Regions from separate parts of the Homo sapiens genome. Here regions 1, 3 and 4 are each linked to region 2. The links come from fine-mapping of genetic effects on gene expression. A gene starts in region 2. Each other region holds a variant in brackets. All regions are shown on one strand. Distances are between the middles of the regions.

What was found. PIP is the estimated chance that this variant, and not a neighbour inherited with it, causes the effect.
Region 1: its variant is fine-mapped to the expression of TMEM250 in whole blood (TOPMed, PIP above 0.99).
Region 3: its variant is fine-mapped to the expression of TMEM250 in whole blood (INTERVAL, PIP 0.99).
Region 4: its variant is fine-mapped to the expression of TMEM250 in whole blood (TOPMed, PIP 0.99).

What each region holds. Positions count from the first base shown.
Region 1 is chr9:136,139,491-136,147,589 of GRCh38, forward strand. No RefSeq gene overlaps it. Among named protein-coding and RNA genes, the nearest start is that of TMEM250, 25 kb to the left of the region's middle. RefSeq lists a silencer at 5,715-6,027 and an enhancer at 7,310-8,099. The variant G/C (reference allele first, on the strand shown) is at 4,416.
Region 2 is chr9:136,115,093-136,123,191 of GRCh38, forward strand. TMEM250 (transmembrane protein 250) reads right to left here and starts at 3,783. Exons shown (of 2, transcript NM_152833.3): 1 at 3,393-3,783; 2 at 1-1,932. The coding sequence starts at 1,808. The coding sequence ends at 1,389. It overlaps LOC107987142 (a long non-coding RNA gene), which reads left to right and starts at 2,700. Exons shown (of 2, transcript NR_165242.1): 1 at 2,700-2,810; 2 at 6,694-8,099. RefSeq lists enhancers at 1,729-2,304, 2,305-2,880, 4,034-4,610, 4,611-5,185 and silencers at 2,897-3,946, 3,977-4,366.
Region 3 is chr9:136,155,348-136,163,446 of GRCh38, forward strand. No RefSeq gene overlaps it. Among named protein-coding and RNA genes, the nearest start is that of TMEM250, 41 kb to the left of the region's middle. RefSeq lists an enhancer at 1,166-1,666. The variant A/G (reference allele first, on the strand shown) is at 3,981.
Region 4 is chr9:136,072,260-136,080,358 of GRCh38, forward strand. All of the region lies in intron 1 of NACC2 (NACC family member 2), which reads right to left. Among named protein-coding and RNA genes, the nearest start is that of NACC2, 19 kb to the right of the region's middle. RefSeq lists an enhancer at 2,377-3,127. The variant G/A (reference allele first, on the strand shown) is at 4,681.

The DNA of each region.
Region 1 (8,099 bases), 24 kb after region 2:
ATCTCTACAAAAAATAATGTAAAAAAAATTAGCCAGTTGTGGTGGTGCGTGCCTGTAGTCCTAGCTACTCAGGAGGCTGAGGTGGGAGAATCATTTGAACCCAGTAGTTCAAGCCTGTGGTGAGCTGTGATCACACCACTGTACTCTAGCCTGGATGACAGAGTGAGACTCTATCTCTTACCAAAAAAAAAAAAAAAAAAAAATCAATCAATCAATCAATAGAATAGAGGTAAGGGCTGAGTGCGGTGGCTCACACCTGTAATCCCAGCACTTTGGGAGGCTGAGGCGGGTGGATCACCTGAGGTCAGGAGTTCAAGACCAGCCTGGCCAACATGGTGAAAGCCCGTCTCTACTAAAAATACAAAAATGAGCTGGGCATAGTGGTGCATGCCTGTAGTTCCAGCTACTCAGAAGGCTGAGTCAGGAGAATTGCTTGAACCTGGGAGGCAGAGGTTGCAGTGAGCTGAGATCGAGCCACTGCACTCCAGCCTGGGTGACAGAGCAAGACTTGACTAAAAATTAAAATAGAATAGAATAGAATAGAATAGAATAGAATAGAATAGAATAGAATAGAATGGAATAATGGTTGAGCTTTGCGAAAACACTCTGGTGGTTCTTCAGACTCTGAAGCACAGTTACCATGTGACCAAGCAATCCAATTCCTGGGTTCAAACCCAAAAAAATGAAAGCAGGCACCTGCAAGAACTTGCACAGGAATGTCCACAGCAGCGTTACTCACAAAAGCCAAAATGTGGAAACAGCCCCAAGGCCCATGGATGGGTGAGTGGATAAACAATAGATCTATTGAGGGAACTGTGATGTGGGCCTAAAAAAAAAAGGAATGAGTGGCGTGATCTCGGCTCACTGCAGCCTCGAACTCCTGGGCTTATGTGTCCCTCCCACCTCAGCCTCAAGTAGCTGAGACTACAGGTGCACACCACCATGCCCAGCTTATTTATTATTTATTTATTTTTTGAGACAGAGTCTCACTCTGTCACCCAGACGGGAATGCAGTGGCACGAACTCAGCTGACTGTACCCTCCGCCTCCCAGCTTCAAGTGATTCTCGTGCCTCAGCCTCCCGAGTAGCTGGGATTACAGGTGTGCACCACCAGGCCCGGCTAATTTTTGTATTTTTTAGTAGAGGCGGGGTTTAACCATGTTGGCCAGGCTGGTCTCGAACTCCTGGCCTCAAGTCATCCACCTGCCCCGACCTCCCAAAGTGCTGGAATTACAGGGTGAGCCATTGTGGCCAGCCTAATTTATTTATTTTTGTAGAGACCGGGTCTCACTGTGTTGCCCAGGCTAGTCTCAAACTCCTGGGCTCAAGCGATCCTCTGGCCTCGGCCTCCCAAAGCGTTGGCATTACAGGCATGAGCCACTGCACCCAGCCAAATGTTCGAACAGATATCTGGGAACCCAGCAGCCAAGTCAAGTTGACACATGAAATTAACCATCACTCCATCCTCACGATTCTGAACCGCACGCCTCAGTGGCATTAAGTGCATTCACGTTGCTGTGCAAACAACATCTTCCTCCATCGACACAGCTTTCCCTCTTTCCAAACTGAAGCTCTGTTCCCACCCCCTCCCCCCGCCCCTGGCGTACACGCCTCTGCTGTCTGTCTCCAGGGCCTCTCGGAGGAGGAATCAGGCAGGCCTTGCCTTTTCATGGCTGGCTGCTTTCCCTGAGCACAACATCCTCCAGGCACGTCCCCATCGTAGCTCGTGCCAGAATTTCCTGGGGTTTCTTTCTGAAGTGAAGAAAATGTTCCAAAATTGACTGTGTTGATAGTTGCACACATCCGTGAGTATACAGAAAGCCATTGAATCATACGCTCTAACTGGATAAATTGGATGCGATGTGAGTTCTATCTCAATAAAGCTATTATTTAAAATATAGAGGTCAGCTGGGTGCAGTGGCTCACACCTGTAATCCCAGCACTTTGGGAGGCCGAGGTGGGCTGATCACCTGAGGTCAGGAGTTTGAGACCAGTCTAGCCAACATGGCGAAACCCTGTCTTTACTAAAAATACAAAAACTAACTGGGCGTGTTGGTGCATGCTTGTAGTCCCAGCTACTCGGGAGGCTGAGGCAGGAGAATTGATTGAACCTGGGTGGCGGAGGTTGCAGTGAGCCGAGATTGCGCACTCTAGCCTGGGCAACAGAGGGGGACTCCGTCTCAAAAAGCAATAAAAATGAATAAAAATTCAAAATAAATAAATAAAATATAGAGGCTAAGTGCAGGCCGCCTGCCCCGTCATTCCCTATCTTGTGAGGGGCTGAGCGCTAGAGACCAGAAGCTGTGGATTTTCCAGCCAGGCCCTATTGGCTGAGGCACACGTGTGGCTCCCCCAAGACAAGAAGCTTCTGGAAACTCATGGCGCCCAGCACCGAGCCAGCGAGCCAGCTTCCTTCCCTGCTAAGCCCATCCCACCCCGGCAGAGCTCCCTTGTCTCTGCCCACCCCAACCCGGAGGCTGCTCACCCTCAGCTCCTGCCCAGCTCTGGCCTCCTGGCAGCATAGCGAGCTTTCTAGAGCATTCTGGAGCTTTCCAAGGCAGCAACTGCAGTCCCAGCCATTCTCCAAAGCTTAATTCTGCTCTCACCTAGTCCCAGCTGTGACCAGTGCCCGCCTCAAGAAGCCTACAGCCCAGGGCCCGCCCTCCCTGCAGACCGGACAGCAACGCCACCTCTGGGAGACTCGTGGGGACGGGGCCCAGGGCAGGCTCACAGTGGGAGGCTGGCAGCACCTACCCGGGGCAGGGCCTCCTCCTGCCACTACCACGTCAGGCATCACTGAGAAGGAGGCAAGGCCTAGAGCAGTCGGCACCCTCTGCAGAGCTGGCACATCCAGGGAGCTTAGGGTCCCTGCATGCTTCTGGGGTTCAAAGGGCAGAGGGTGTGAGGGGCAGCAGGGAGGCTTGAGACCCTCTGGACTTCGAGATCACCATTTCTGCCCCAAAGCCGATGCCTCCACCAGCACTGGCCCCTGCAGTCCTCGCAGCTCCCCTCGAGCTCAGGAGAAGCCCGCAGGACCCCACTCTCCCTCCCAGGGCTCCCTCTCCACCTCCTGGGGCTCCCTCCCTCCCCAACCTCCCCACACTCCCCAGGCTCCCACACTTGCCAGGCCCTTCCCCCAGCCTAACCCTGGCTCACCATTTACTCAGCCTATTTAGCATCGTAATGCAGACTGGTTGTGCTGGGTCCTACAGGTATTGATTTTGCTCTATTTTACTGGTTTTAACTTAATGACTAGAAACCCCAAACAAATAAAATTTCCTTTAAAAACTCAGAGAGATCAATGCTCATGGGCCAGAATCCCTATTCTACGAGCCGAAGGGACAGTCCCCTGGGTTCTCCGCATCATCGCTCATGGCCAGAGGCTCCCCGGGGGCTCGGGAAGGATCCCTGGGTGGGGGTGGGGGCAAGCATACCCCACCTGCTCAGGGCGGCCGCGTCCCTCCTAAAGCGAGACCCCCACCCTCTGGCTGGTGAGGCTGTTTAAAAGCCTGTCTCCAGGTTGTAAAACTGGAAAAATTTAAAACTTATGATTCATCTGTTTCCATGTGTCCCAGGCGGCCTCTGAGGTTGGCCGGGCTCTGAGGCAAGGAGGGGTCCCGACCCTGGGCATGGATGCAGATGTGGAGGACCTCTCGGAGCACGCAGGTGCTGAGGCCCCCAGCCCAAGCCGCCAGGACGGTCCCCATTCCTGGCTGGTGGGCTGGGCCACAGGTCAGTCCGTGCCCCATGGCCTGGGGGACACTCCTCCCGTGCCCTCCTGCGGGCTGCCCAGGGCGGCTGCCTTTGCGATCCCCAAGGTCTCCCAGAGGTCCTGGGGTGGCAGGGGCCCCAGTTTATCCAGTGGAAGGGGAAACTGAGGCAAGGTCCTGGACAGGGAGTCCTGGCTCTGCCTCTTCCCGTGAGACCTGGAACAAGTCTCCCGCCCTCCTAGGGTTCCAGGCTTGTGGTTGTGAAACCAGGGGGCGCTCAAGGGACACTCAAGGCTCTCAGTTCTCCCCATCCAAGTCCTCCAAGTCAACAGGACCCCCAGGAGTGGGGGAGAGGAGGAGCAGAGCTGGCCGGGGGCCGGGGTGGGGAGTGGAGGCCTCGCCCTCCCTTGACCTCCCGGATCTGCCCCTGTGCTTCCGGGAGGGTGAGGAACCAGCAAGAACCCCCACCCCCTGCACCGAGGTCCCCAGGCCAGGCCTGCAGCCTCCCTGGAGGGAGCCCTTTATTGCCCCTCCCCAGAGGCCCAACCCAAGCTCCTCACCCTGATGGCATTCATCCAAGAAGCCAGGATGAGGGTTCCCATCCCCACTGCTCACACTTGGGAAGGTTTTAAAACCAGCTGGGACCAGTTACAGGGACAGCAGGACTTCTGTGCCCACTGGGGCCAGCCCAGCTACCTCCAGGGG[G/C]TCTGGGTTGACCTTGGCCTGGGAAGCCTGTGCATGCCGGGGAGGGGGCACTGGGCTTTTCGCCTGCTCCCTCAGCCCAGTCTCTGGATTGCACTGGCCCCCAGCAGCTGGAATCCCTGCTCCCCGGAGGCCCACCCATTTCTGCAGCCCAGCCCCCCACCTCACCCCTCTCCCTGCTAGCATTTAGGCAGCTCCAGGGACACCCTGGTCACCCCATCCTGACTTGGGCAGGATCATAGAGCATATGATTTAATCTTCTTGTGCCTCAGTTTCCCCCTAGGTGCACTGGGTCCATGCCTCTGGGCTGGCAGAATTTGACTGCTGGGACACTTAGGCCCCTGGAGGAGTCAGGAACAGCCCCCTGGCCGGCTCTGCAGTGCACACGTGGTCAGGCCCTGAGGTGGTATCTCCTGCAGGTCTGGAGAGAGGCTGGCAGGTGGGTGGAGAGGCTGTTGAGAAGGGCACTGCCAGGGTCCAGGGCAGAGTCTCCACGTCCTACCCACCCACATGGGCTCCCTGGCTGTGCGCTCTGCAGAGGGTGACACGTCCAAGGAATGGGGAACGCAAGACTTCCCTCTGCTGGGTCACGGCTCCATCTCCAAGTCTGGGCCAGCAGCCGGAGGGCTGGATGCTATTTGCAAATTAGTGTTTCACCATTAGACTTTCGGCTGTGGGAGGTGGTGACAAAGACCTTGGCCCCCCACACTTAGCTCTTGGGAACGGCTCTGCCTGGGTTCCCCCGAAGCACAAGCACATGTCACCCGCCACCCACTCCGGGCCCTGTGGGTCCAGCTCTGCAGCCCAGCCCACCACTTACAAACACAGTAGGTCAGGCAAGAGGCTTCTGCTCCCAGGTCTTGATTTTCTCATCCACACAACGGGCCTGAGCTCTACTGTGGAGGCCAGGACAATGGCAAGGACTGGAGGAGGTAAAATCCCGGGACCTCCAGTCCAGTGCCGCCCCACGTCCTGGGGATGCTGTGTGGATCGAGCATTACAAAAGCATTTTGTAAGAAGGTGTTTGGGGGACTCCAGCCCCACTGGACAGATGGGAATACTGAGGCCCCAGAAGGCACCTGTGGGAAAGATGCAGGCTCCAGTCCTGGTTGCGACACAGACGCGTGCCTCTCGGATCCTCTCTGCCCGCCATTTCCCCAGGGGTCAGCGTTCTCAGGAATGCTCAGGGCCTGGCGGCCCACCTGCTCAGAAGGCCCAGGCAGCTCTGCCAAGGCCAAGGGCAGCAGAGACCCTCCAGCAGGCCAATGTGCCCAAGAGTCCTCGTCCTCCAAAGCCCAGTAGCTTAAGCACGATTGAGGGATTCTGCAGCTGTGTTTCTGTAAGGAGGAAATCATTGACTCTGGTTGGGGGCAGGGCATTTGGGGGGCATACCTGGAAGGGGCACCATCACAGGAGCTGGGAGGCTGGCACCTGGACGGGTCCCATGGGACCCACTGAAGAGTGACCTACATGTGTGAGTGGCCCATGGCTGGGACTTGGAGAGGGGCAGGGAAAGCAGGGGTGCCGTTCCAGGCTCCCAGACAGCGTCTGCTCCGGGCAGAAATTGTTTATGCGTCACCCACCCAAGGCTCCCGGGGCTGGAGGGGCAAACCCACCCACTCCTCTCTCCCCTCCTCCCCTTCCTCGTCCTCCACGCAGTGGGGGCTGCCTGGCTTTGGGATCCTCTTCCATTTCCTCTCTGCAGACATCACTCCTGGACCCAGTCCCCAATCCCTGGAAGGTTCCGGAGCCTGAGATGCTCTCCCCCCAACTCAGCCCATAGGTGAGACCTTGGCCTCCCTCACCTGCTAGGAAGCCCCTTGCTCGGGCTGCCTGCCCTTGGGGCCTCCAGGCAGAGCTGGACTGAATCTACTTGAGGGAGTAGCACCATCCAGATGGGCCCCCAGTGGGCCGGGGAAGGGCAGGAGACCTGCACCTTGCCAGCTGCCCTGGCTTCCCGGCACCCTGGGGGCTGGTGGAGCCCTGTTATCACTATGTCGGGGAGCAGAGCCCTGGGGTCAGGATGTGGGTGGCAGGAGGGCTTGGGGAACTTGGCTGTGGACATCTGGCCACCTGATTTGGAGCTGGGCAGCACTGGGCAAGTTCTTCCCTACCCCTGGCCTCAGTGTTCTCAGCTGTAAAATGGAATAAGGACAGGTTGTGAGGCTTAAACAGTATAAAGTGAGGGAAAAGGCTTAGCTCATTCAGTCCTGAGAGTAGCCACCCCGAGGAGGCCTGAGGGAGCGCCTCATAGACGATGCCTGTCTCCACACTCAGGTGGTTCTAAGAAAGAAAAGTCATCGGAGGACCCGTCCGGCTGCCACTCCAGCCCCAGCAGCCACCCCTGGTCACCAGGCCCGCACCTCCGACCCCCTCCTCACTCAGGCCTTAGAAGGAAAGAGCTGCTGCTTCTACAACGAGGATGCAAGACCTGGGCGGGACCCCCGGCATTCCGGCTTCGCCGTCCTTCTTTCCACCTCCAAGGGCAGAGCCACAAAAGGAACTTTCTGAGCAGAGCCCAAAGAGGTCCCTGAGGTCCCTGGAGCCTCCAATGGGCCCCCAGAGTCAGGGCAGAGGTGGCAGGTAAGGAAGTGTGGACATGTGTGTGGTGTGTGCACAGTGTGAATGTGCTTGTGTGTGTGCATCTGTGCATGTGTGTGTGTGTGATGTGCAAACGTGCACAAGTGCATGGGTGAGTGGTATGTGCGCACACGTGCACGTGCACACGCATGTAAGCATGTATATGCACGACCTGCTGTGTGCAAACCCGTGTGTGCTGTGTGGTGAGTGCACATGCCTGTGCAAGCAAATGTGCACGCATGTGGTACAGTGTTTAAGCATGCACATGTGATATGTGGGTGCACAAATGCATACGTACATGTGTGATATGTGCAATGTGTGTGTGCATGGCCGTGTGTATGAGTCCACGCACGCCATGGGAGAAAGGAGCCCAGGCTGGCTCCAGGACCCGCAGAGCCCCCCTTGCTGATGAAGTTCCCAGGCCCAGGCCACCCCCGTGTGGAGGAGGCACCGGCCACGGAGTCGTGAGTGGGCAGAGCTCCTCTCCCAGAGCCTGGCCAGGGCGGGCCCCACTTCCACCCAGCTGGTGCGTGCCCCTGCCTCTCAAAGCTGGTTTAATCTGATTGCTGCTGACCGGGTGAGAAGCTCCCTACCTGCCAGATGTTCTCCAGGATTCAATTGTTAATATCTTTCATCAATTATTGAAGGGGAGGGCTCCCTCTTTTCTTAAAAAAAGCAGCAGCACCGGCGCACAGGAGTGGCTCAGGTTACCCGGTCTGCAGGTGCCAACTTGGCTGCGAGGAGGGCAGGGAGGAGCTGAGCCCCAGGCCTCTCAGTGAGCTGGGTCAGCACCCCTGGAACAGCTGCCCGGGAAGGAGGGTCCCTTAGCTGGATGGAAGCTCCTCTACTGCAGCCCCTCCCTGCCTGGACCTACAGGGACTCTGATCTCTTGATCCTCACAACAGCCCCCCAGGGTGCCTGGCGGAGGGGATGGCACAGGGGGCTGTGCCTGCTCACAGGCTGCGCTCCCTGGGGCCGCATGTCTTGGGGCAACACAGTTAAGGGCTTGTGGTCTTCCAGGCTGGCTCCTCTGTGCCTGGCATCCAGCCCCTAACTGTCCACTGGGACTGGCTGGTAGCTGGGCCGTGAGAGCTGACCTCCACCCCA
Region 2 (8,099 bases):
AGGGTCACAAGTCCCACCCATGCCCAGAGTGTGGGGACATGGATTTGAGGTGACACTAGGGTTGTCAGTACCACACCCTGTGTCCTGCTCTAGGGTAGCCTCTGCCTGTTGTCCTTGCAATCATTATTCAGGGCGCCCTCCCACTTGCCCCCAAAGTCACACGGCCATGGGCAGTCCACCATAGTGCTGCCGTGACTGCAAGGCTGAGGAGCAGAGCAAGGGGTCCTGGGTGAGACCTCGGCCCATGGTGGCCACCCTCCCTGAACACAGGCATCTGCGCCCCTCCAGCCCACCTGCCCCTGTGCCATCATTTGGGCCCCCCAGACACTGGAGGACAGCGTGAGATAAGATCTCAGCATATACCTGGGGCTCTAAGATGCTGCTGGTGCCACACAGGCTCTGGGGCTGTGTTTGCCGCACTGAGGCCTCTGCCGCCTGCTCCGGACACTTGGGACACGCGTTTCCATCCTGGCTCACTGAAGCCTCGATCTCCCAGGCTTTCTTTGACGGTGTTCCCTCAAAGAAAGAGGCCCAAAGCCCTCCCCCGCAAAAAAAGCCAGAAAGGAATGGAGGTGCCTCCGCAGAAATCCAGAGCATCTGCAAGACATCCTCACAGCCCTCCCAGAACAGGCAGACAGGCCAGTGTTGCTGGAGTCAGCCCCTGGCTCCCAGGGTTCCCCCCAGGCCAGCCCCTGAGCTGGGAGCCTGCTGAGGCCCCTCCCACCTGAGCCCTTCTCCGGCCCCCCGCTAGACTGCATCTACACAATCCAAGGGGACCCTGAAGGCTGGCTGGGGACTCAGGACCCACACAGCCCCTCAGGATGACACACACAGGGTGGTCCGCGGGCAGTGCCAGGCCTCAGGCGGCCCAGGGCAGAGTAAGCAGCTTTGTGGCAGTGTGGTGTGTCAGCGAGGGGAGCCTTCCGTGTCCCGTTGGCTGGGGCTGGGGCCAGGGCACGCAGAAGGGGCTGTGCAGCCAGGAGGGCCCCCCTCCGGAATTGCTCCTGGGCACACAGCCCTCTGTGTCCAGGGGCCTCCCAGGGTGATGTCTAAAGTCCCTGGCAGCTGTGGTCCTGGAGAGAGGCCCACAGAGAGGCGGAACGGAGGGCCCACCCCGCAGTACGACCCGAAGACATGTGAGCAGGAGCCACCGGCAGGTGGGCGCTGCCCCTGAGAGTGCATACGGGGAGGGTGGGTCCAGGAAGCCAGCCTAGGGGTGGTGTCCGCGCCCCCATCACAGAAGTCTCAGCCCTTTCTTTTCTCTCCGTGGGCGCCGGGCAGCAGCGACTGCCTGGGGGATGGGCGAAGGGAAGGCGCTGGCCGACCCCACCCATGGAGAGAACACAGCCACAGGCCGGGACGATACATCAAGCTCGCACCCACGGCCCTCACATGTCCACGAAGACCATGAAGCACCAGCCCAGGCCCCCGACCAGCAGCATGGTGACGTGGATGCCATAGACGAGCAGCTCGTTCACCAGGCGGAAGTCCACGCGCCGGCGGCCCAGCAGCAGCAGCAGCACCGACAGCTTGCGCTGGAAGCGCAGCAGGACGCGAACGCCCAGGTACTGTAGGCAGAAGAGGGCGGCCAGCGCACCCCAGAGCGCCGCAGTGAACAGGCTGCAGCTAAAGTAGAGTAGGAAGCGGATGAAGCCGTACAGCCAGCGCGTCTTGATGTACACGTCGAAGTTGTTGTACTTGGTGCGGGCCAGGTGGGAGGCGCGCACGGGCCCGCAGGCCGCATGCAGGCAGGTGGTGTGCGGGCCGTGGAAGGAGCGCACCCGCCGCGGAATGGGCATGACCGGCATTGGGCCCCGGCGGCGGCGGCGCTAGGTCGCAGTGGCGGCGGCGGTGTCCAGGCGGCTGTTGGCGTAGGGGTCATGGGCGCCTAGGCCTGGGAGCCCGCAGCTGACCCTGGGGGGAGGCGTCGGCCTGCGGGGAGAGCCGCAAAACCCACGTCAGTATGAGGACACCATGCGGATCCCTCCCCAGGCAATCAGCTGGCGAAAGTGGACACAAACTCCAGCACCAGGACTACGGGAAAATGGAGTCCAGGGCGGGATCTGCAGGCACTCCTGGGCTCTTTTCCACAAACCCTCCCAAGGATACTTCCAAGGGGCCCACCACCTGGGGAAGCCAAAGTGCTTGTTCTAGGGCAGCACTGGGGAAAGGGGGCCTTGGGGACAGTGGCCAGGGGAGGCCCCCGGAAGTGGTCAATGCCAAAACGGATGGGAAGGGGCAAGAGTGGCTCTTTCCTGCAGGATCCTCGCAGCTCCCCACTAGCTGGACCACACTCTGCTCTTAGGCAGTTTGCCCGTTACTGCCCTGGTCTTCTGCGGCTGCCTGACCCAGGGCTGATGCAAGCCCTTAAATGGCATCTGCAAGAAGCCACCACAGGGCCGGGAAAAGGGACTCCAGGGCTCGCAGGTGAACCGAAAACGAGCCCGGCGGGAGCAGGTGACTCCAGCAACCTGCTGGGTGCCAGATGGACGGCTCGGGGGCCGTGGGGTCACCTTGCTGGGCCTGAACCCTGGCACTGTCCTTCCCTAGCAGTGACTTTGGGCAGGTCACCTGACCCCAAGACGGCTCCTGCTCTGTCCAATGGGGGTGCCAATAGCACTGCCTTTGTGGGTAGCTGTGGGAGGGAAGGGGCTGGGCCTGGCGTGCACAGTGGGGTCGGCCCGGGGCCTGGCAGCGGCCCTTACAGACTGGGCTGCAAAGAGCAGAGGCGGCATTTGGCTCTCCAGCTTCACCTAGTAAAGGCCGTTTATACCTTGCCGAAATAATCTGTAGACGGAATGAACTCAAAGGTCAGGAAATAAAATCTGAGCAGGAAAGTTGGTAACATTACAGGGGACTGTTGCCAAGAGCTTCGCCTGCCTTCAGATTCAGCCTGGGGCCCTGCCGTGGGGACCTGGCCAGGGCGGAGGAGGGAGGGGCCGGGGCCGCCTGACCCTCCCGTGCCCGCAGGGGCCCGACCTCGCCCTCTCCCTCCGCCCGGCTCCTCCACGGGGTGCAGGGGCCAGAGCGGCCCTATTTAAGGCCGGCCTTGGCCTGGAGCTCGCCCCGGCCGGGACCCCGGCCATGGCGGTGCCACTCAAACGCGACTCGGCGGAGCTGTGTCCCCGCAGGGTCTCGCGGCCCGCGGCTCCATCCGGGTCCCTGCGTTTCTGCAGACGCCCGCTCGGCCCGGCCCATGGACCCAGGACTGTTTCCTCGGGGCCGCAGAGACGCAACGGGCCCCGGCCAACTCCGCGTGAGCACCGGGCCTGCGCCGCGCCGCGCCGGGCCCCCTGGCTGCAGAGCCCCTGCCGGAGCCACTTCCGGGTCCCGCGCCGCGCGTTGCCCTGGAGACGGCCCCCGCCTAGGCCGGGTCCCCGACCGCAGCTCACCCGGTGCCCTCTCCGCGGCGGCGCCGGCGTCCCGGACCTCGGGGCCGGCCGGCGGTGCTAGGGGCCGGGCCTGCGGGTGCCCCTGTCCCTCGGGGCTCCGTGCGCAGGGCGGCCGCATGGTGCTGGGGCGCGCGGCTGGGGGCGCTGGCAAGGCGGCTGAGGGCGTGGTTCACGCGTCGCCGGCTGGGGTCGCCCTGCAGGTGAAGGGGCTCTCGGGCGCGGCCGCCGGAGGCGTTTGGCCTAGCGTGGGAGCCGTAGCGCCGTCCCTCGACGGCCACCGTAGGGCGGCCTCACGCCCCCTCCACCCGCGCCGACCGAGCCGCACTTCCCTTCCCCCTGCTCCGGGCCCGCGCTGGGCGTCCCGGACTCGTCGCTTCCCGAGGGCGTGCGTGCGTGCGTGCGTGCGCACGCTGCGAGCAGTCCGTAGCGTTCCCTCCCCCGAACGCCCTCGGTGCCGCGCCTGGTCTTCTGCGCCTGCGCTTGCCGTTCCTGGGCCGCGCCTCCGCGCACGCGCTACCGCATCCCGTGGAGAGGCAGTGCGCAGGCGCGCTTCCGTGGAGCAGTCCTTTGGCCCCAGCAGAGGGCTTGACCGTGGTCCTGGCCCCGGACTGAGGTGTCTGCGACCCGGCGCGCTGCTGCCGTCGCTGGGGTGGGGCCGGGCCCCGGAGGAAGCCGCTTTCCCGGCGGGGGTGGGCGGCCCAGGGACCGGGAGCAGGTCTGGTCCTCGCGGGGCCGTGTGCGAAGGCCTCCTGCGCGGCCTGGGGCTGGGAGGACAGGGCGGCGGCGGGAATGAGGGCGCCCCCCAGGCTCCAGGAGGGCGGGGAAGGGTGGGGGCGGCTGACGCCACGCGGACCCGGGCGGCACGGATCGGGTGTGTAGCTGCGAGGCCCGGTGGGCCGGCGGCGACGTCGGCAGCCGAAGTAGGGACAGCCCCGGAGCACGAGCAGGCCCAGCAGCAGCCCCAGGGCCGCCCCCCCGCCGCCCCCCAGTGAAGGAAGGGGACTTGTGTTAGTGTCCTCACGCCTGGTTCGTACAGGCTGGCGGTTGTCCTGGGGGTTTCCAGCGAGGAATGTGTTGGGGAGCGCTCCTGGGTGTGGCTGCTGGGTAGGAGGGGAAGGCAGGGTCAGCAGCCCCTGGGGCGACCGTAAAGTGGGTGGCCCTTCAAATTCAAGGCACTGGAACAAGGGGGCTGGGCCCTCCTGCCCACCAGGCCCGTCATTGGCTGCAGGCCTCCCGGGACGGCGAGCTGGCTCCTGGGCCCCTGTCCTTTGGACCAGGGCCGCCCTGAGGGCTGGCACAGCTACCTTCTCCACTGTGGCCCCATCCCCGCCACAGGAGAGAGAGCCGCCTTTACCCGACATGAGCAGGAGTTCGAGGAACATCTGGACGAGCAAAGGCCACCAGGAGGTAGCACAGCAAAAAAGGCCAAGAGCCTGTTTTCTTTACCGATGGCTGGCGGCAAATATTCCGAAAGAAACGTGTCAGGCAAGAAGCGCTAGTTCACGCCTGTCATTCCACCGCTTTGGGAGGCCAAGGCAGGGGGATCACTTGCCCCAGAAGTTTGAGACCAGCCTGGGCAACATAGTGAGGCCCCTGTCTCTACAAAAAACTTAAAATCAATAAACAGGTCTCCTTCCTTCCTCAATAGTCCTGTTGGTGGCTCACCTCTCTGCCTCTCCAGATGTGAGGCAGATCCACACGTTTAGCTATTGAGATAAGGCTGGGCGTGGTGGCTCACACCTGTCATTCCGGCCTCAGATCTCTTGTGCCCAGGAGTTTTAAGACTAGCCTGGGCGACCTGGCTGGCAACATGGCCTCCACAAAAATAAATAAAACATTTTAAATATATAAACATTGAGATAATAGCATCTTGATGCCTGTCTTCATTTTTTGTCTTCTGTTTTAAGGACTATTAGAGACAAACTAACCAAAGATAATTCTCCCCTCCCATGTGGCTCGTGCTGGGACGCCGGCACCGTGAGATGGCGCCCGTGGCCAGATAGAGGGTGGCGTGTAAAGCAGGTGGTCACCCGTCACTCGACTTTTCGCGTGCTGGTGAGGGTGGTCGCATGTCCATGGATCAGGGCTCACACCTGGCCCATCTGGTGGCTGTGCCATGGGAGGAGCAGAGCCACAGCCCCGCTCCTTGCTGTGGGTTTCCCGTGTCCTCCCTGCCCTGCAGTCCCCTGACTCCAGCTCTGGATTAGACACCCCCTGCTTCCCACTGTGCACCCGCCCAGAGAAGCACAGCATGCGTGCCTGCACTTGCCCCCACGCTGCTACCCTGCTCTGGGTACCAAGGACACAGGCACAGCAGAGCCCCCACCCTCGAGGCACCTGTCATCTTGTGACAGGGACAGGCTGAGGGGCAAATGACCAGAAAGGGTGGCAAGTGCCATGTCAGACATATGGTCTTCATACAGGGGATGTCCCAGGACTGCTGGGCCAGAGACCCCTCCATGTGGGTCAGCATCACCCAAGCCAAAGGCCAAGGAGGTCTCTTGGGGGGTGTGGCCGTCAGAACAAAGCTGCCAATGCGCGTACTTTTAAAGGTGCGGTCAGCTAGTGAGGCTGTGGCTGGCCCTGGCTGCATCCAGACCCTGGAGTGTCCTGCAGCCAGGGGCGGATGCAGGTTTTGTGGGGCCTGAGGCTTCTGTGGTTTAAGGGACCTTCCTTAAGAAAATACAAAATTAGGAACAGGCCTTGAAGCTTCTGCTGCTAAACAGGGTCAGGTGAACCCACTGCCAGCTGTGCCCAGAAGACAGTCCCCCAGGCTGAGTCAAAAGTGGTTCATAGGCCGGTCATGGTGGCTCACGCCTGTAATCACAGCACTTTGGGAGGCCAAGGTGGGCAGATCTCAAGGTCAGGAGATCAAGACCATCCTGGCTAACACAGTGAAACCCCGTCTCTACTAAAAAACTACAAAAAAAAAAAAAAATAGCTGGACGTGGTGGCGGGCGCCTGTAGTCCCAGCTACTGGGGAGGCTGAGGCAGGAGAATGGCATGAACCCAGGAGGCGGAGCTTGCAGTGAGCGGAGATTGCGCCACTGCACTCCAGCCTGGGCAACGGAGTGAGACTGTCGCAAAACAAAGAAAAAAAAGAAAAAAAAAGTGGTTCACAAAGTCACGTCTAGTGTGACCCCTCATCAGCACAGACGTACTCCTAGGTGTCCGTTTCTGGGTGAAGTCCTGGAAGCAGATAAATGTTTGCAGAGGTGATCTATGTGTGGTGGGATTAAAGAGATGAATATATTTTACTGTTTTTTTAACATTTCTGTACTTTCTGATTTTATTTTTTCAGCATGAACAAACAAAAAAAAGCCGGATTTGGACAAATAAAAAGAAGTGCATGTCAGCCCGAGTGTCCTGAAACATGTTCCTGTATTAGAATCTCCAGGAAAGCTGGGGCCCCCACTCGCCACTACCTCAGGCTGGGCCCGCAGTCACGTGCTTCTCCCTACAGGAGGGTTCTGTGTCCTGAATTCCCAAAGGGTGCAGCTGTCCCCTTGTCGCCTTGTCTGTGTTGATGGTTCCACACTCTCTGGTCAGCCACCTGCCCCGCCAGTCTCTGCTCGCCCATGGATGGGGATGACCACTCTAGCTGTGAGGGTGGCTTCCCGGGCTAACCCTGCTGCTGCTGCCCATTGCTTCCAAGGCTGGGATATCACTTGGGGTTTGGGGTGAGGGGACAGTAAGGGGGAGCCCTGGTTGCCCTTTCCAGGAGAATGAGTATTTAAGTGCGGAGTTGTTTATTACTTGACTTCAGCAGAGGCGCCATGGTCGGGGAAACGCTTCATGTGCCTTGGGTTATAGGGCAAGTCCCATCTGTCTGCCTTGAATTTCGGTTTGGAGAATCTGTAAGCTCCACACACGTGGAAGCGTCTGTGCCCCGGGTGTGGGTTCTGATCTTGGTTGTGTTCGTGGCTGGACGCTGTCCTTGAGGCCACCCCTTGGCACCCTTCACAGAAGACAGTGGGGGTCGCCCTTCCCTGGCTGACCCTCCAGAACCGCCAGCCTCCCCTACCTCCCTGTGAAACCAGGGTACAGGGCAGGAGCCTGGACCTCTTTACAGTTGCCTTTTCTCTCTCTCTGTCCCTTCTCCATCTTCCGAGCTCCTACTCGCCCTTCAGGACCCAGCTCGAATGCCCCATCTCTGGGAGGCGCCTTCAATCTTGGGCTGCCCCTTCCGTCACACCCCCTGTCCCCTGTCTCCTGCCTCCCCTTCCTCCTCACACAAAGCCACCCCCGCCTGTTGGTGGCCTGTGTCTCCGCTGGCCCAGGGCTCTCTTGCCGTGGCCACCGTGGGTTTTGGCCTCGTGACCCAGTCCATGCGTGCACAGCGCAAGTAGCTTCCCAGGACACCGATTTCCTCCCCGGCCGCAGCTGCTTCTGGTCCTCTGCCCACTCCCGGGTTCTGCGCCTTCCTGCGCCCCCGGCCTGGCCACAGCTCGGTCACCCCAGAACCACCGTGTGCTGGGGATTTGTCACGGGTTTGTCCTGACGTGTGAGGTCCAGCCGGGGTCCCCATAGCCTCCCTGTCCCCGTCCCTGTCCCCGTCAGGCCTCCTGCTGCGCTGTGGACAGTGGCTTGGCGCCATCTGCTGGGCTGGTGCCTGTGGTGCCGCCAAGCGCAGGAGGGACCCAGCGGCTCCAGGTCTGTGGGAGACTTTAAGTTGGGGCCGAATGTGGTGCTCGCTGCCGACGCAGA
Region 3 (8,099 bases), 40 kb after region 2:
TGATGAGCGCGTCTGACTCTGATAACCAGGGAAAAGTGGAAAATGAAATGGAAGTGGCCAGCAGTCAACAATCCATCAGTTTCCTCAACTGCTCTTTTAAACACGGGTGACCACACAGCCCAGAAACTCCCTTCCAGGGACTACCCGAGAGATTGAAGGCAGGCCCCACAGAGACGCGCCCAGCTCCTGCTCCTCAAACTGCTCCGTTAAACACGGGGTGACCACACAGCCCCGAGAGAATGAAGGCAGGCCCCACAGAGACACGCCCAGCTCACGGTCACAGCAGCATCATTTACAGCAGCCAAAAGGTGGAAACAGCCCAGGTGTCCTCCGGCAGACGGGTGGATTAACAAGCGGTCTAACTGCGCCATGGGGTATAATTTAGGCTTAAAAAGGACGCAGCGCTGACACACGGGAAAACACGGCGAGCCTGGGAGCGTCAGGCCGAGGGCAAGAAGCCAGGCACAAAGACCACGTTATGGGATTCCATTCACAGGCAGAGCCTAGAACAGAGACACCTGTAGGGACGGATAGTAGATTCAAGGTTGCCAGGGCTGGCGTGGGGGGCTGGGGAGGTGACTGAGGACATAGGCTTTCTTTTTTTTTGAGATGGAGTCTTGCTCTGTCACCCAGGCTGGAGTGCAGTGGTGTAATCTGGGCTCATTGCAACCTCTGCTTCCCATGTTCAAGCGATTCTCCTGCCTCAGCCTCCTGAGTAGCCGGGATTACAGGCACCTGCCACCACACCTGACTAATTTTGTATTTTTAGTAGAGATGGGGTTTCTCCATGTTGGTCAGGCTGGTCTCGAACTCCCGACCTCAGGTGATCCGCCCACCTCGGCCTCCCACACTGCTGGGATTACAGGTGTGAGCCGCCACACCTGGCAGCCTTTCTTTTTGAGGTGATGAAAATGTTCTAAGATGGACTGTGCTGACGGCTGCACAGCTCTGCGAATACACAAAACACCCCACTGTTCTCGCATATTCTGAACGGTACACTGCAGGTGAGTGACTTGTACAATATGTGAATTACATCTCAATAAAGCTATTGTTCGAAAAAGCAGCAGCCCCAGCAAACAGTGAATCGGGGCAGCAGAGGATGGAGCCCTCTCCTCCTCCTGGGGGGACAGATGGCGCGGCCCCCCGGGGTTCGGCACCCTTGTCTGGTGCCCTGTGCTGTGGGGCTCCAGGAGCCCGCCGGGCGGCCATCGCCGGGGTGACGGCTGAAAGGCGGGATTGAAAGCCTTGGAGGGGCCTCCGTGGGTTGAGGTCAATAAATCTCGCCGGCTGTGCGGCCTCCCGCCCGCTCTGTTCAGCAATCTGTCCGGCTGCCTTTCACCAGCCCAGTGGCTCCCATTACCTCGGGGGAAGAGCCACAAATCACCGTGACAGACCAATCAACAGGCCGGGGAATTTTTACACACGCTGCCTCTTGAAGGATGAGTCCCCCTCAGCAGAGCATCAGAATAAATCTCCTCAAAAACTTTCCCCTGAGCCCACCTCCCCCCGGGGCCCCGAGTGGCTGGTGGCCTCCCCCGAACTCACCAGGGCCAAGCCCACCTGCGTCCCTTCCGGCTGGCGGGGCTGGGACCCTCTGCCGCCGTCCCCACTGGACGCCTCCCTGTGTCCCAGGAGGCCGACTCTGAGCTGGGGGTGGTCTGGGGGCCACCAGGGCTGGCTCTGACCAAGTCCACCCCGAGCTGTCCAGCCACGTCCCTGCCGGGACACTGCTGGCCCCTTAGTCCCCCATTCAATGTTGTTGGGCCCTCCCAGCAGGGCCGGAACACCTCATTTCAGCAGGAAGAAAGAAAGCTTTATAAAATAATTCATAGGAAACTTAAAACACTCAGACACCAAGAAATTGCAAATGGGGAAATATGATGGATTATGGGCTGGAGGAAGGCGACTTCCGCAGGCAAAATTGATCCCTTGGAAAATGGTTTTGTCTGCTATGAAAAATGGGTAATATCTCGCTGGGGCTCAAGAGCTATAATCCCGAAAATAATTTGCTTTTGATTTCCTTTTAGCCCCTGTTCTCCCCCCAACCCGTCCCCATTTAGGAGCCCTGGGCCTGCTCGTGGTGGGGGCCCCCTCTTTGTCAGGGCACCTGCTGGGGGCTCCCCCACTTGGTATTGGCTGGTCTACTTAGAGAGAGTCTTTTCTCAACTGATGGCTGACGGGGGTCGGCTCCCAGCGTGGCCGCCTCCCATGCCCCCAGCCCTCCTCTCTTCAAGAATTCCCAATTAGCTTGTCCCTTATCAGGGACTTTTTAAAAACCAAGCATCCAAGAAAAACATCGCATCATCTCTCAGCTGGGCTTGCAGGAAACCGTATCATTTCCTCCCCACCAGATATGCCGAGCAATGTTTCAATCAGAGATTCATGTCAGTACAACAGAACCAGAGAGGGGCATCCCAACCCCTCACCCTACAGAGGGGGGAGCTGGGGCCAGAGGGGAGGGTCTCTCCAGTCAGAAGTGGAGCTGAACCCAGGGTGGGCTTGGCTTTGGTGGAAGGTGTGGACACAAGCCCAGGACTCCAGCCACTGTGGAGAGGGTGGGGACAGAGCTATGAGCTCCGAGGGCCGAGGCCAGGTCAGAGCTCCTTCCTCTGAGGCCAGCCCTGCCGGGGGCTTTCACGACACCCAGACACTCTGCTCCTCCCCAGGCCTACTAAGTTGGGGTTTCCAGGGCAAGGGCAGGAGGCAGCCGTCCCACGTGGGAGAGGTCGTGCCTCCCAGTGCCTGGAGCTTTCTGCAGGTACAATGCTGCCCCTTCAACCCGTGAGCCACCAAAGGTCTCCCTGGGAGCAACGTCCCCAGCGGCTCCAGGTGGCTCCACGGGGTCCCACCTGCCGGGAGTCTCTGCAGTTCCCCTGTGGGCTGCAGCCTTCAGGGCCCTGTGGCAGCCCCGGGGACACTGGCAGGGCCACAGGGCCACTCGTGGACAAAAGACCTTGGGAGCAAGGGTACAGAGTGCTGTCCCCTGAGGTTGCTTTGTTCCTGTGGCAGCTGCCAGGTTTTCCAGGGATGTGGCTCCTGTAGCAGGAGCCCCAAGTGAGGGGTGCTGGGCCCAGGCTTCCAGGAAGAGAGGCCTGGAGGTGGCTGCTCAGCATCTCCTCATGGCCCAGGGACCTTTCCCTCCAGGGTCTGTTTCTTGAGGGTCACTGCGTGTCTCCAGCAGCATTGTCCTGTGGCCCCAGGGAGGAAAGCATGGGTGACCTGCCATGGGGAAGGCGTTTCCTGGAGGAAGAAAGGGCCAGAGATGCTGGGTGGCCACCCTGTGATGGGTGAGGGCCAGGCCTCATGCCTCACTGCTGGCTGCTCTGCTGCTGTGTCCCTGCAGGGTGACACAGGCACACCTTGCTCTGGGCCAGATAACTCCAGGAAAAGCCTCCATCTGTCAGAGCAGGTGCATGCAGCCCTGTGGGAGAAGCACAGCCAGGGACTCAACCCATTTCTTTCTGCTTGTGCAGCCGGGAAGTAGGGCTGTCCCGTCCCTTACCTGTGAGGCCGTTGAACACTGGCCTCCTTGGGCGTTTGTGCATTCACTCCCTAACCAAGTACCCTGACAAAGCTGAATGCATACATTTGTCTTGGAGCCTTCTGGAAAGAGATGATAAACCTCCCAAAGTTCACCCATCAAGGTCAGCACAAGTGATGTCCTGAACCTTAAGCTCCAGTCAAGCTTGGCAATGCATTTGTTAATTGATTGATTGATTGGTTGATTGACATGAAACTTCCTGATCCCTTTCCCAAAGCTGCCTGTTACATAGCACCGGTGATCCCCCACCCTCACCCCATGCACCGCAGCAGCCGGTCCTAATCCAGCCATCACCAAAACGTGTGCATGAGAGAAGGTATGGAATGGCTTCCCTACCATTTACCCACTGGCCTCTCCCAGAAGACCATCAATGGCCAAGGGCTCTGTGATTCAAGGCCGATCAGCTCTGTAATGAAATGTACCTCCCTTGGTGTATTTC[A/G]GGGACATTTGCACACCTGGGCTGGCAGGGACATGGCCACCGTGAGGAGATCTATTTCCCTTGCCTTGCAGACGATGGACCGGGCCCGTCTGTAGAGCCGTGGTGGAGCTGGCCACACGCACACGCAGGCCTATTTTTCAAACAATTGATTAATTCCGCAGCGATGTTTGCTGCCGTACATCACCTATGGCCGCACTGTGGGGCTTTCCGGTTCTCCTCCCACCTGTAATATTCCACAGCTGATGGCTGGAAATGGGGAAAGCTTTCTCGAAAACACTCATTCGGGGCTTACTGAGGTCATCAATCAGCTATTTTCAAATGTCAACTTTGAAGGCGAAAGGGGGATGCTCAGAAAACAGGACCCTCATTGGGAAAGTGGGGGGCAGGCTGGGGCAGCGGGGGTCTGTCACCCTAGGAAGCTGGAGCCTAGGTGACCTCAAGTCTTCGAACCTGGTCTGAGGGGCGACTGAACCCTGAAAGCTTGCTGTTGGCTCTCCAGATCCGCAGAGACGGGTTCAGGGTTGCCAGGGTCCCTCAGCGGAACCTGCTGCAGGTGTCAGAGGCCTGGATATGACCAGGCGGTCAGGGCCTGGTGCACCCGAGAATGTCAAATCCACTTCACAGAGACGTGAGCACCTGCCGGGGGTGCTATTTGCCCCATTCCTGCTGCCCCTCTCCGCAAAACAGGAGCCTGAACTGGCTGCCCCAGGGTCTTCGCCAGTGTGGGACCACGGCCTGGAAACAGCGGGGTCAGAATGTGCACGAGGCCTGGGCTGCGTGAAGCCTGTGTCGGTGATTCCACCGCAGGCAGCCGATGGAGATCCCAGCCCTGGAAGACCCCATCAGCCTCTGGTTACCTAATTAAAATGAAAACCCCTTCCAAGAACTCAGCACCGAGTTGGCCGTCCTGCCCCCAAGAGCTCATGTGTCGGGGAGGGGGCCACTCAGAGCCCAGGCCCCAGTCTAGGACTCACAGTTACCCAGAAAGAGGAGTGGCCAGTTATTCCCGGGACCGGACTGGAGGCAGGTGGGCGGAATGACTCAGGAAAAGCCACTGCTTGAGGGACCCCAGCACAGCAAGGTGCCAGGCCTTGGTCCGAGGAGGCCGGGCCCAGGAAGCTGGAGTGTGTGGGGCATGTTGGGAGGGTGGCGTGGTGGCTGCACTGGGGCTGCCTGGTCACTGCAGGGGTGAGGCTTGGAGACTGCAGGAGTGGGAGGGCCTGGGTGGGGCCCTGCTCTCCATGAGCCGGCCCCTATGGCTCTCCCTAGGGAGCAGACACCTGCAGGGAAGGCCGGGCCAGCTGAGGGGCAGCCTTGGAGAAGCAGCTGCAGGAACATGATGTGGGCTGTGTCTGCAGGTGAACGGCTTCTACAGGGCAGTGTGGGAGGGGAGGTTCCCAGGAGCGGGGAGGCCTGGGCTGCGCTCCTCAGGCCCCTCGCCTCTGGTGTTCCCTGGAAGGAGGGGCGGGAAGCTGGCGGCCCCGGCTGATTGTATTAGACAGGCCTTTATTGATCCAGCTCTTGCTTATCCCTGGTGTCTCATTTCAATAAACAGCAGTTTGGAGAAATTAGCGAGGGACCCTGGCTCCTTCCCCTCCCCCCTGCCCCTCTCCCCCATCTTCCTTTGGATTTGTCAGGAATGGAAGATTTATGAGGATTCGAGTGAGATTCTAATTTGTTCCTGAGACAGCGGGCTCAGAGCATTGAGGGCACGGGCCAAGCCCTTGCTGTTTACATGCCCTGACATGGGGACACAGTCTGGGCCAGGCCAGGGTCCTGGGCAGGGGCCTCACTGCTCAGCCACAGCTGCAGTCATCCGAGGAACTCAGCATGGTGAGAGGGAGATGTCACCAGACCTCTGGGGCCGAGTCAACCATGGGAGAAACCATCAGGAGGCAGCCTGGTGGGAGGGGACTGCCCCAGAGGGCACCACAGAGTTCTACCAGTCCTGGGCAAGTGGTCGTCACATTGCCCGGGCCTCAACCCCTCATCTGCAGGGGAGATGACAGATGTATGTGTGTGTGTGCATATGTGTGTGTGCATGTGTGTGTGCATATGTGTGTGGGTGTGTGCATATGTGTGTGGTGTGCGTGGTATGTGTGTCTGTACATGAGTGTATGTGATGTTATGTGCACCTGTGTGTGTGTACATGGCATGTGTGCATATGTGGTGTGTGCGCGCTTGCTGTGCTTTGGCACACATTGACACTGGCAGTGTAAAAAAACTCCCGTTTTTTTACCCAAATGCAACAGACATTTTCCCAAGTTATTCAATACTCCTTCTCTTTTTCAAAAATATATTTGTCACAGCTACAGAAACTCAGGGGATGGGCTGTAGCATAAAACCCTGAGTGGTTTCGCTTTTCTCCAGACCTTTTGGGGATGCTGTCCCTTCCCTCCCCTCCTTGCCCCTTCCCTCCCTTTCCCTTCCCTTTCTTTGGAAACAGGGTCTGGCTCTGTCGCTCAGGCTAGAGTGCAGAGGTGTGATCACGGCTCACTGCAACCTCCACCTCCTGGGCTCAAGCGATCCTCCCACCTCAGCCTCCTGATTAGCTGGGACTACAGGCAGGAGCCACCACACCGGCTATTTCTGTATTTTTCATAGACTTGAGGTATTGCCATGTGGTCCAGGCTGGTCCTGAAATCCTGGGCTCAAGCGACTGACCCACCTCGGCCTCTCAAAGTGCCAGGATTACCAGCGTGAGCCACCATGCCAGTCTGGGATGCTATTTCTTTATAAATGACATGTCCATGCAGGTGCCAGCCCAGCAGCCTCTGCCTGGAGGCCCCCTTGGCTGCCCTGTCTCTCCCTGGTGCCCATGGGGTCCCTCCTAGTCATAGGGTCCCATTTAGCGAGGCCCACCCAGCCCTCCAGGGAGCCCCCTCCCTCCCTCCCTTCCATTCCCTGCTTATTGCCCATCCCACCTCCAGCAGGTGGGCTCTAGAAGGGCCAAGCTGGCTTTTGTTCCCTGCTCAATCTTCAGTGTCTAGAACAGTGCCTGGTACACAGTGCCTACTGGATGATTTTTAAAATAGATTCTGGCCAGGTCCAGTGGCTCATGCCTGTAATCCCAGCATTTTGGGAGGCTGAGGTCAGGAGTTTGAGAACAGCCTGGCCAATATGGTGAAACCCCATCTCTACTAAAAAAACAAAAATTGGCTGGGCGCGGTGGCTCACCGCCTGTAATCCCAGCACTTTGGGAGGCCGAGATGGGCGTATCACGAGGTCAGGAGATTGAGACCATCCTGGCTAACATGGTGAAACCCTGTCTCTGCTAAAAATACAAAAAATTAGCCGGGCGTGGTGGTGGGTGCCTGTAGTCCCAGCTACTCGGGAGGCTGAGGCAGGAGAATGGCGTGAACCCGGGAGGTGGAGCTTGCAGTGAGCCGAGATCAGGCCACTGCATTCCAGCCTGGGCGACAGAGTGAGACTCTGTCTCAAAAAAAAAAAAAATTAGCCGGGTGTGGTGGCTCGCACCTGTAGTCCCAGCTACTCAGGAGGCTGAGGCAGGAGAATCACTTGAACCTGGGAGACAGAAGTTGCAGTGAGCCAAGATCACACCACTGCACTCCGGCCTGGGTGACAGAGTGAGCCTCCATCTCAAAAAAAAAAAAAAGATTCTAACAATCATTGACTTTAAAAAACAGCTTGATTGAGTTATAATTCTCATACCGTATAATTCACCCATTTAAATTGTGTAATTCAGTGGGTTTTGATATATTACATTAATTTTTAAAAATTGAGGCAAAACATATATAACATAACATTTGCCATTTTAACCTTTTTAAGTGTGTAATTCAGTGGCATTTAATACCTTCACATTTTTGTGCAACTACTACCACTATTTTCAACACTTTTTATCCCCCAAACTAAACCCTGTGATCATCACACGAAAGCCCCATTCTCTCCTTTCCCAGTTCCTAATAACCACTGTTCTGCTTTCTGTCTCTATGATTTTGATTCCTCTAGATACCTCATGTACGTGGAATCACACAGTATTTGTCTTTTTGTGACAGGTTTATTTCACTCAACAAATGTCCTCAAGGTTTATTCATGTTGTAGTATGTGTCAAAATTCCATTTTTTTTATGACTGAATAGCAATCACTGCCTTTTAATTG
Region 4 (8,099 bases), 43 kb before region 2:
CAAAGGCAGGGCATGGTGGCTCATGTCTGTAATCCCAGCACATTGGGAGGCCACGGTGAGCAGATCACTTGAGGCCAGGAGTTTGAGATCAGAATGGCCAACACAGTGAAATCCTGTCGCTAATGAAAATACAAAATTAGCCGGGCGTGCTGGTGTACACCTATAATCCCAGCTACTTGAGAGGCTGAGGCACAAGAATTGCTTGAACCCAGAAGGCAGAGATTGCAGTGAGCCAAGATCACACCACTGCAATCCAGCCTGCACAACAGGGCAAGACTCTGTCTCAAAAAAGAAAAGAAAAGAAAAAAAAGGCTGGGTGTGGTGGCTTATGCCTGTAATCCCAGCACTTTGGGATGCCGAGGCGGGCGGATCACCTGAGGTCAGGAGTTCAAGACCAGCCTGACCAACATGGAGAAACCCTGTTTCTACTAAAAATACAAAAAATTAGCTGAATGTGGTACATGCCTATAATCCCAGCTACTTGGGAGGCTGAGGCAGGAGAACCACTTGAACTCAGGAGGCGGAGGCTGTGGTGAGCCTAGATCATGCCATTGCACTCCAGCCTGGGCAACAAGAGTGAAACTCCGTCTCAAATAAATAAATAAATAAATAACCCCAAAATGAATTGGAGACTTAAACATAAAACTAGAGGGGAAAGAAAAAAACACACAAGAGAATAAAATATTTGTAGAATCCGGGGCTAGGCAGAGAGTTCTTCCATAAAAGAAAAAAACTGATAAACTGGACTTTATCAAAATTTAAAAACTTTTGCTCAGCACAAGACACAGGTAATGGGATGAAAAGACAAGACACAGGCTGGTAGAAAAAACATGCCAGGAACACATTTAACAAAGGACTAATATCTAGGCTACATAAAGAATTAATTGGCCGGGTATGGTGGCACGTGCTTGTAGTCTCAGCTACACGGGAGGCTGGGGTGGGAGGATCACTTGAGCCCAAGAGTCCAAAACCAGCCTAGGCAACATAGGGAGACTCTGTCTGTACAAAAAATAAAAATAAACTAGCTGGGCATGGTGGAGCGCACCTGTGGTCCCAGCTACTTGGGAGACTGAGGTGGGAGGATCGCTTGAGCCTAGGAGGTGAAGGCTGCAGTGAGCTGTGGTCTTACCGCTGCACTCCAGCCTGGGTGACAGAGCAAGACTGTCTCAAAAAAAAAATTTTTAATAAAAAATAAAAAATGAGGACCCCAGTAGGAGCTGCAGTGGACAGGGGGTGTGAGCGTGGATCCAGCTGTATCAGAGTATAGTCCTGCCCATCAGGGGAGAAGAGGCGCTTGTCTCAAAGTGAAATGCACAATTGGTCTCGAATGCCAAAGAGAACAGGAAAAGACAAAAGACTCCAGTGGATGTATGGACAACCCAAGAATGTTTGCAGAAAGTCGACTTGATTTCCCTCGGTTCATAATACCTGGAAATAAGGAGTATGAAAAGCAGCTGCGTGTGTGCTACAATTTTGGCACAATTTGCTCAGTTTCAATGGGTCTATTCCTAATTGTTTTAAAGGTGCTTATGCATCCTCTACTGCCAAGTACTGCATTTGCGTCCAAGCAGGATTTGGTGTTCTGTCTGCTAAAATGCTGCCTGGTCTTGGAGTATCTGGTCTGCCCAGAAGCAGGGTCAGCAGTAAGCGGTGATCCTTCCCTCTGCCCTGAAAGCAGACCCTGGCTCTCACCGAAGTAACCAACAGGGATTTGCACAGACTCCGTCATGTCCTTGACTATTTTTTTAAAAAAATTAAGATCTTGGCCGGGCACAGTGGCTCATGCCTGGAATCCCAGCACTTTGGGAGGCTGAAGCAGAAGGATCACTTGAGTCCAGGAGTGAGAGACCAGGAGAGATGGTAAGATTATAGTCTCCACAAATAATTTGTTAAAAAATTAGCCAGGCATGGCCAGGCGCGGTGGCTCATGCCTGTAATCCCAGCACTTTGGGAGGCCGAGGAGGGCAGATCACGAGGTCAGGAGATCCAGACCATCCTGGCTAACACGGTGAAACCCCGTCTCTACTAATAAAATACAAAAAAATTAGCCGGGCATGGTGGTGGGCGCCTGTAGTCCCAGCTACTCGGGAGGCTGAGGCAGGAGAATGGAGTGAACCCGGGAGGCGGAGCTTGCAGTGAGCCGAGGTTGTGCCACTGCACTCCAGCCCGGGCGACAGAGCAAGACTCCGTCTCAAAAAAAAAAAGAAAAAAGAAGAAAAAGAAAACAAAGTTCTTCATTCCAGAAACATTAAGGTTCTTTATAAAGATGTTAATAATTTCTGAGGTTATTTAAAATTATGTATCATCCCTTCAATTAACACAGACGGACAGGTCAAAACCATTCCTCGTTCTGTCACAGCAAGGCTGCCTGCCTTCCTCAAGGAACCTATCTCTGGTTCAACATTGACTCAATACTGACCGTGCCTCCACCAAGTCACACCCTAAACTGCACCGACAGATGAAGCTGGACCTTCCGAACGACCATCCCCTGTGACTCCCAGAGGGCCCATGTCGGTGGTCACATTCTGTTCCCAGCTCACCTGCGGGGCTCGGGGATGTATCACTCAGCCTCGGCGTCTACACCTCACACAGAGCGGCAGGAAGCGTGGCCTTCCCAGCCGAGGCGGAGTCGGCAGGGCCGGGGGATGCTGGCGGGAATGGGTTCTCGCACGGCCTCCTTCTGGGAGCCCGGGAGCTCTGTCCCCCACTCACTGTCGCGTATGGGGCTGGGGGAACAGCAATCGGATCCTCACGAAACAGTGACGTGAGGCCCAGTAGAGGACGTGACCTCCTCCAGGCCGACGCTCTTGGTTCTGCGTGAAATGAGCCGATTCCACCTTGTCCTCAATGGCGGCTTCTGCTCCCTCAAAGCGGCAGGCCAGGAAGTGGGGAGCCCCAGGTGTGGGTGCAGCAGGCTGCAACGCCCCCCACACACAGACTTGGCCTCAGACAGCTGTCACATGGCACCAGGGAGGTGGCCAGGACTCCAGGACACATTCTGGTCCAGTCCGGCACTGACCGGGATGAGGGAGAGCTGGCTGCGGCCGCCTGGCTGGGATACTTGGGGGGAAAGCCCTCCCTAGCTCCCCCGAGGCTGGCTGCTGCGAACTGACTGAAGCGCTCATTACAGGGTGTCCACTCTCCCCGGGCTTGGAACTCGGAGGCGAATGTCTCCCCGAGCCTGTTTCCCTTTCGTAGACGTCGGCAGCGGCTCCGTGTGAACCTGCCGTCTCCTACATCGCGGTACAGTTTCTCAAACAGATCGCGCAGCTGGGGCCAAGCCCAGGCTGTCGTGCCTGAGGACGCATCTTCTTTTATCGGGCATAGGCCCACATTCAGGGTTCGGGGTCGCAGGTCCTGCGGGAGCAGAGCCTGCAGGGCCCCCTCAGGAAACCTGTGCTGATGCTGTCCTGAGCTCCCTGTGCCCGGTCTTCCACACGCGGGGAGGACACCCCCGTGCAGACTGCGCCCAGGGGAGGAGACCCACCCAACACCCACAGGCCCTGTCGGTGAAACCTCAGAGACAGGGGTCTTGGGTTTGGGCTCTGAGGCTCGGGACACAAGATTCAATAAGAGCAAAGTCATCTCCTCTGGAGTGAGAGGCTGCTGAAAACGGAACCCAGGCTTTCCTACAAAGCGCCCAGGAGCAGCCCCGCAGCCCTCCATGTGCTCAGTGCCTGTGGCCCTGGGGCTGCTGCCCACTCCTCTGCTGCATCTGTGACAAAACTCCGAGACACCCGCTTCTCAAAGCCCTGCATGAAGGTTACGTGTGGTCACGAAGAGATCCTGCAAAGAACAGTCATCGAAAACTTGGAAATAAAGTAAACAGGCACCCTTCGCGGCCTCTGCCTGATTTGCAACTCAGTAGTGATGACACCCCATACCCCGTGACATCCTAAGTCTCCTATATGCAACCAAAAGAAAAGCAAATGATTTCCATCCAGTAGCAAAGAGAACCCCAAGGGGCAGCGTTTCCCGGCCCTGCGGAACTCGAAGAAGTGCTGTAACTAACCCAACAATCTATCCAGCCTCCTCTCCTCAGTGACTCTAAACACCCAGTTCCTCAAATGTTCTCTGAGCCAGGTTTCCTGCCCATACCACGACAAAAATGAAATGAAATTCTGATGCACCCCCCAGCCCGGTGAACCTCAAAGACACTATGCCGAGTGAAAGCCACCAGGCACACACAGACAACGCCACGGGGTTCCACTCACACGCGGGCACAGAGCAGGACAGTTCAGAGACAGGAAGCAGAACGGAGGTTTCCAGGGGCTGGGGGACTGCGGAGGGGAGTTGGTGTTCAATGGGTGCAGTTTCGGTCAGGGATGATGAAAACGTTCTGCAAACAGAGGTGAGGGTTGACAGCCATGGGAATGTTCTTACTGCCACTGAACTGTGCGCTTAAAAAATGGTTAAAATGGTGAATTTCATGTTGTGTATATTTGACTACAATTTTTAAAAAATGTATTGGCCTGGTGGTGGCTCATGCCTGTAATCTCAGCACTTTGGGAGGCTGAGGTGGGTGGATCATGAGGTCAGGAGATCGAGACCATCCTGGCTAACACGGTGAAACCCCTTCTCTACTAAAAATACAAAAAAAATTAGCCGGGCGTGGTGGCGGGCGCCTGTAGTCCCAGCTACTTGGGACTAGGCGGAGAATGGCGTGAACCCAGGAGGCAG[G/A]GCCTGCAGTGAGCCGAGATCGCGCCACTGCACTCCAGCCTGGGCGACAGAGCGAGACTCTGTCTCAAAAATAAATAAATAAATAAATAAAATAGCCGGGTGTGGTGGCGGGCGCCTGTAGTCCCAGCCACTTGGGAGGCTGAGGCAGGAGAATCGCTTGAACCCGGAGGTGGAGGTTGCAGTGAGCCGAGATTGCGCCACTACACTCCAGCCTGGGTGACAGAGAAAAAAACAAACAAAAATTAGCTGGGCGTGGTGGCGGGCGCCTGTAGTCCCAGCCACTTGGGAGGCTGAGGCAGGAGAATTGCTTGAACCCGGAGGTGGAGGTTGCAGTGAGCCAAGATTGCGCCATTGCACTCCAGCCTGGGCGACAGAGCAAGACTCCGTCTCAAAAAACAAAACAAAACAAAAAAAGCAGAAGAGAAACATGGCCTTTGGCAAAACAAACAAACAAACAACAAAAACCCTAACAGGGCACAAAGGACATTGTTGATAAGTCGTGCTTCATTAAAATATTGAAAAATAAAGACCAACACTAAGAGAAAAAACAAGCCGAGAAGGACAGACCTTTGCAACATATGTATCTTCAGCAAAGGGCGTGTGGTCAGAGTATGGAAAGAATTCTACAAATTCTACAAATCCATCAAGAAAAGGGAAACGCACAGAGGAGGGAGGGGCAAGAGCCCAGAACAGGCCCTTCACAGAGGAGAAGGTCCCCAGGCGGTGACACCTGAGCAGGGGGCAGCTGTGTGGTCACCCGGGAAATGCGAGGGGACCCCAAGGACTCTGGCCACCCCCACACCGGGGAGCAGGCAAGGGGGCAACAAAATTGTGCTTAAAATTATTTATAAAGTAATAAAAGGTAAGTGAAAGTAGTTTGAAAAGTGAATAAGGAATCAGTGATGAATACTGACTTGTGCTTTATACGCAAAGGTGTGCCTTTGGGAGTGAAAACCACGTAAATAATATCAGTCCAATCATAGTTTTGTTTTGGGTTTTTTTGTACTTCTTTTTAGTAGAGACGGGGTTTCACCATGTTAGCCAGGCTGGTCTCAAACTCCTGACCTCGTGATCCACCCGCCTCGGCCTCCCAAAGTGCTGGGATTATAGGCATGAGCCACCGCGTCCGGCCCAATCATACTTTTATAATCACGAGGTTTGCCGTACTATCTTTAAACAATCCATGCACGAGTTTACAGACACAGTGGTAGAGAGTGGGATGGACCAGGCACCCACTCAAACCCTCATCCCCAAGGCCGGGTGCATACCCACCACCTGGCAGGGGTCCCCAGGACCCCCACCCCCCGCAACCTTGTGGCCAGCCCCACTCGCCTGCAGGCCAGAAGACGCCAGAATTCCACGAAGCTCAGTCCCTCGGAATGCAGAATTCATGAGGGGGACAGGCACATCTGGGGGCAGGTTCTCCAAATAATTCTGGCTCTCTCATTTCAGGAACTAAAGGCCCAGGCTTTTCCATTTAATCTTTAAATGGCAATCCTTAATACAGGTTTTTCCATTTAATCCTTAAAGTAAGCGCAGGAGAAATACCATTACCCTACTGTACAGATGAGAAAACTGAGGCTTGGAGGTGGGACGTGGCCCGCTCACTGGCCCTGGAACCGTACCTGGATGCATAGACGGGACTCCAGGGGAATGTACTCCTAGGCCATAAACCTGTGCGAGGCAAGAGGGGCCAGCCCAGCCCCGACATCGGGACAGAAAGGGGCGTGGGAATGGCTGGGGGACAGGTCAGGCACCTGAATCTCAGCCACATCAGAGCTGAGCAAAGCGAGCCCCTCAGGCAGGGCTGTCATCACGAGTGTGGCACCACAGCCACCGCCGCATCCTGGTCCCCAGTAAGCACCCCCAGCGTGGTCCCCTCCAGGAACTGAGGCTCTCAGGGCAGGGCCTCTCGCCCCTTGTCCAGGCGACCTTGTGGGTAAGCAGGGGAAGCCAAGGCAAACTCAGGAGCACACACCCATCCCCACGGGGAGCAGATGCCCTTAGCACCGTCGCCGGCATGATGCCGCGCCGCCGCCGCCCCTCTCCGATTCCCTAACGGTTCCCGAGGGAGCACTGAAGGTAAATATGTTAATTTGACTTCAATCATAGCTTCTTCTTTTTTTTTTTTTTAAGTGCACACGGTATTAGTTTAGGGCACGTAACCTGAAATCTACTCACGTATGTCTGTGCGTCCCGTCCTTAACAAGAGAAAGCTTGAGCTCTTGCCAAGAGGGCTAAGGGCTGAAGAGGCTGCAAGGTGCAGACATCCTCCCAGGGTGGGAACTGCACTCTCTGAGCTGAGGGGGAGACCAGGGAGAGGCAGGGCACTTGCCCAGAGTCCCACACCCAGGAAGGGCTGCCTGGCACCCAGCCACCTTCAGGCCTGATGGAACGGGGTGCCATCCTCTGGCTTCCAGGCAGGAGACACTCCTACAAGCACAGGATGCCAACTGCAGAAGCCAATGCGTGGACTCCGGGGGCCCTGCAGGTGCAGCCAAGGAACCAGGATCTCCAGACAGGCCCCAGGCTGTACAGGCTGGACGCCAGCAGGTGGGGCAGCAAGCCCCTCCTCACCCGCAGGCATGGGCACCCCATGGCCTGCTGAGAATGACACGAAGGAACAGGCTGACTCACTGAGTGGAAAGGCCACTTGGCCCTCAACCGAGGGCAGAAGAGAGGCCAGAGGCCCCCCAGAGCTCCTTCCTGGGGCCCTGCCGTGGCCGGCACTCCCCGAATGCACTCCAGGGTCACCAGAGCCCTGGAGCGTGGCTGCAGAAGCCAGATGGGTCTCAGGCCTCCCACTACCCATTCTGCGACTAGGAATAGGAAAGTTACGAAATCTTGAAGCCTGTAAGATTTCAGGCCACCAGGACAGGCAGCAGCCGGGGAAGTCTCAACTTTCCAGGACCCCAAGGCCCCAGGGGCCAGGCCACAGCCGTGCTGTGGAAGGAGCCGCTAGCCCTGCCACCTGTTCCCCAAGGAAAGCTTTTGGAGCTGTTCCCCAGGGAGAGGCGGCCCTCCTGGAGAGCTACAGATGGGCTCTGCTGGCCATGGGGCTGCCTGGGCCAGGCCTGGGGCTGACCTGATAGCCCACACCCTTGGCCACCCACTGTAGTCATGGCCCAGCTGGCAGAGACACACAGTCCCTACCCCGGGCGTGGCTGCCAGCCAAAGCCCATGCCACTGTGCCCCACAAAAGCCAACGGTTTGACCACAAGGGCCTCCTGGCAGGGCCCTGTAGCCACGCCACACCAGGGATGGTGCCAGAGCGGTACTGCACCCCCAGCCTGTACAGCCTCATCCCAGCAGGGCCCCCGCACCCATCTCTGTGCTCTCCTTCTCTGAGCCCAGGCCCCTTCGCTGCCCCTACATGGGATGCCACCTCTCAGGGCATCCAAAACCCAACCCAGGTTCTA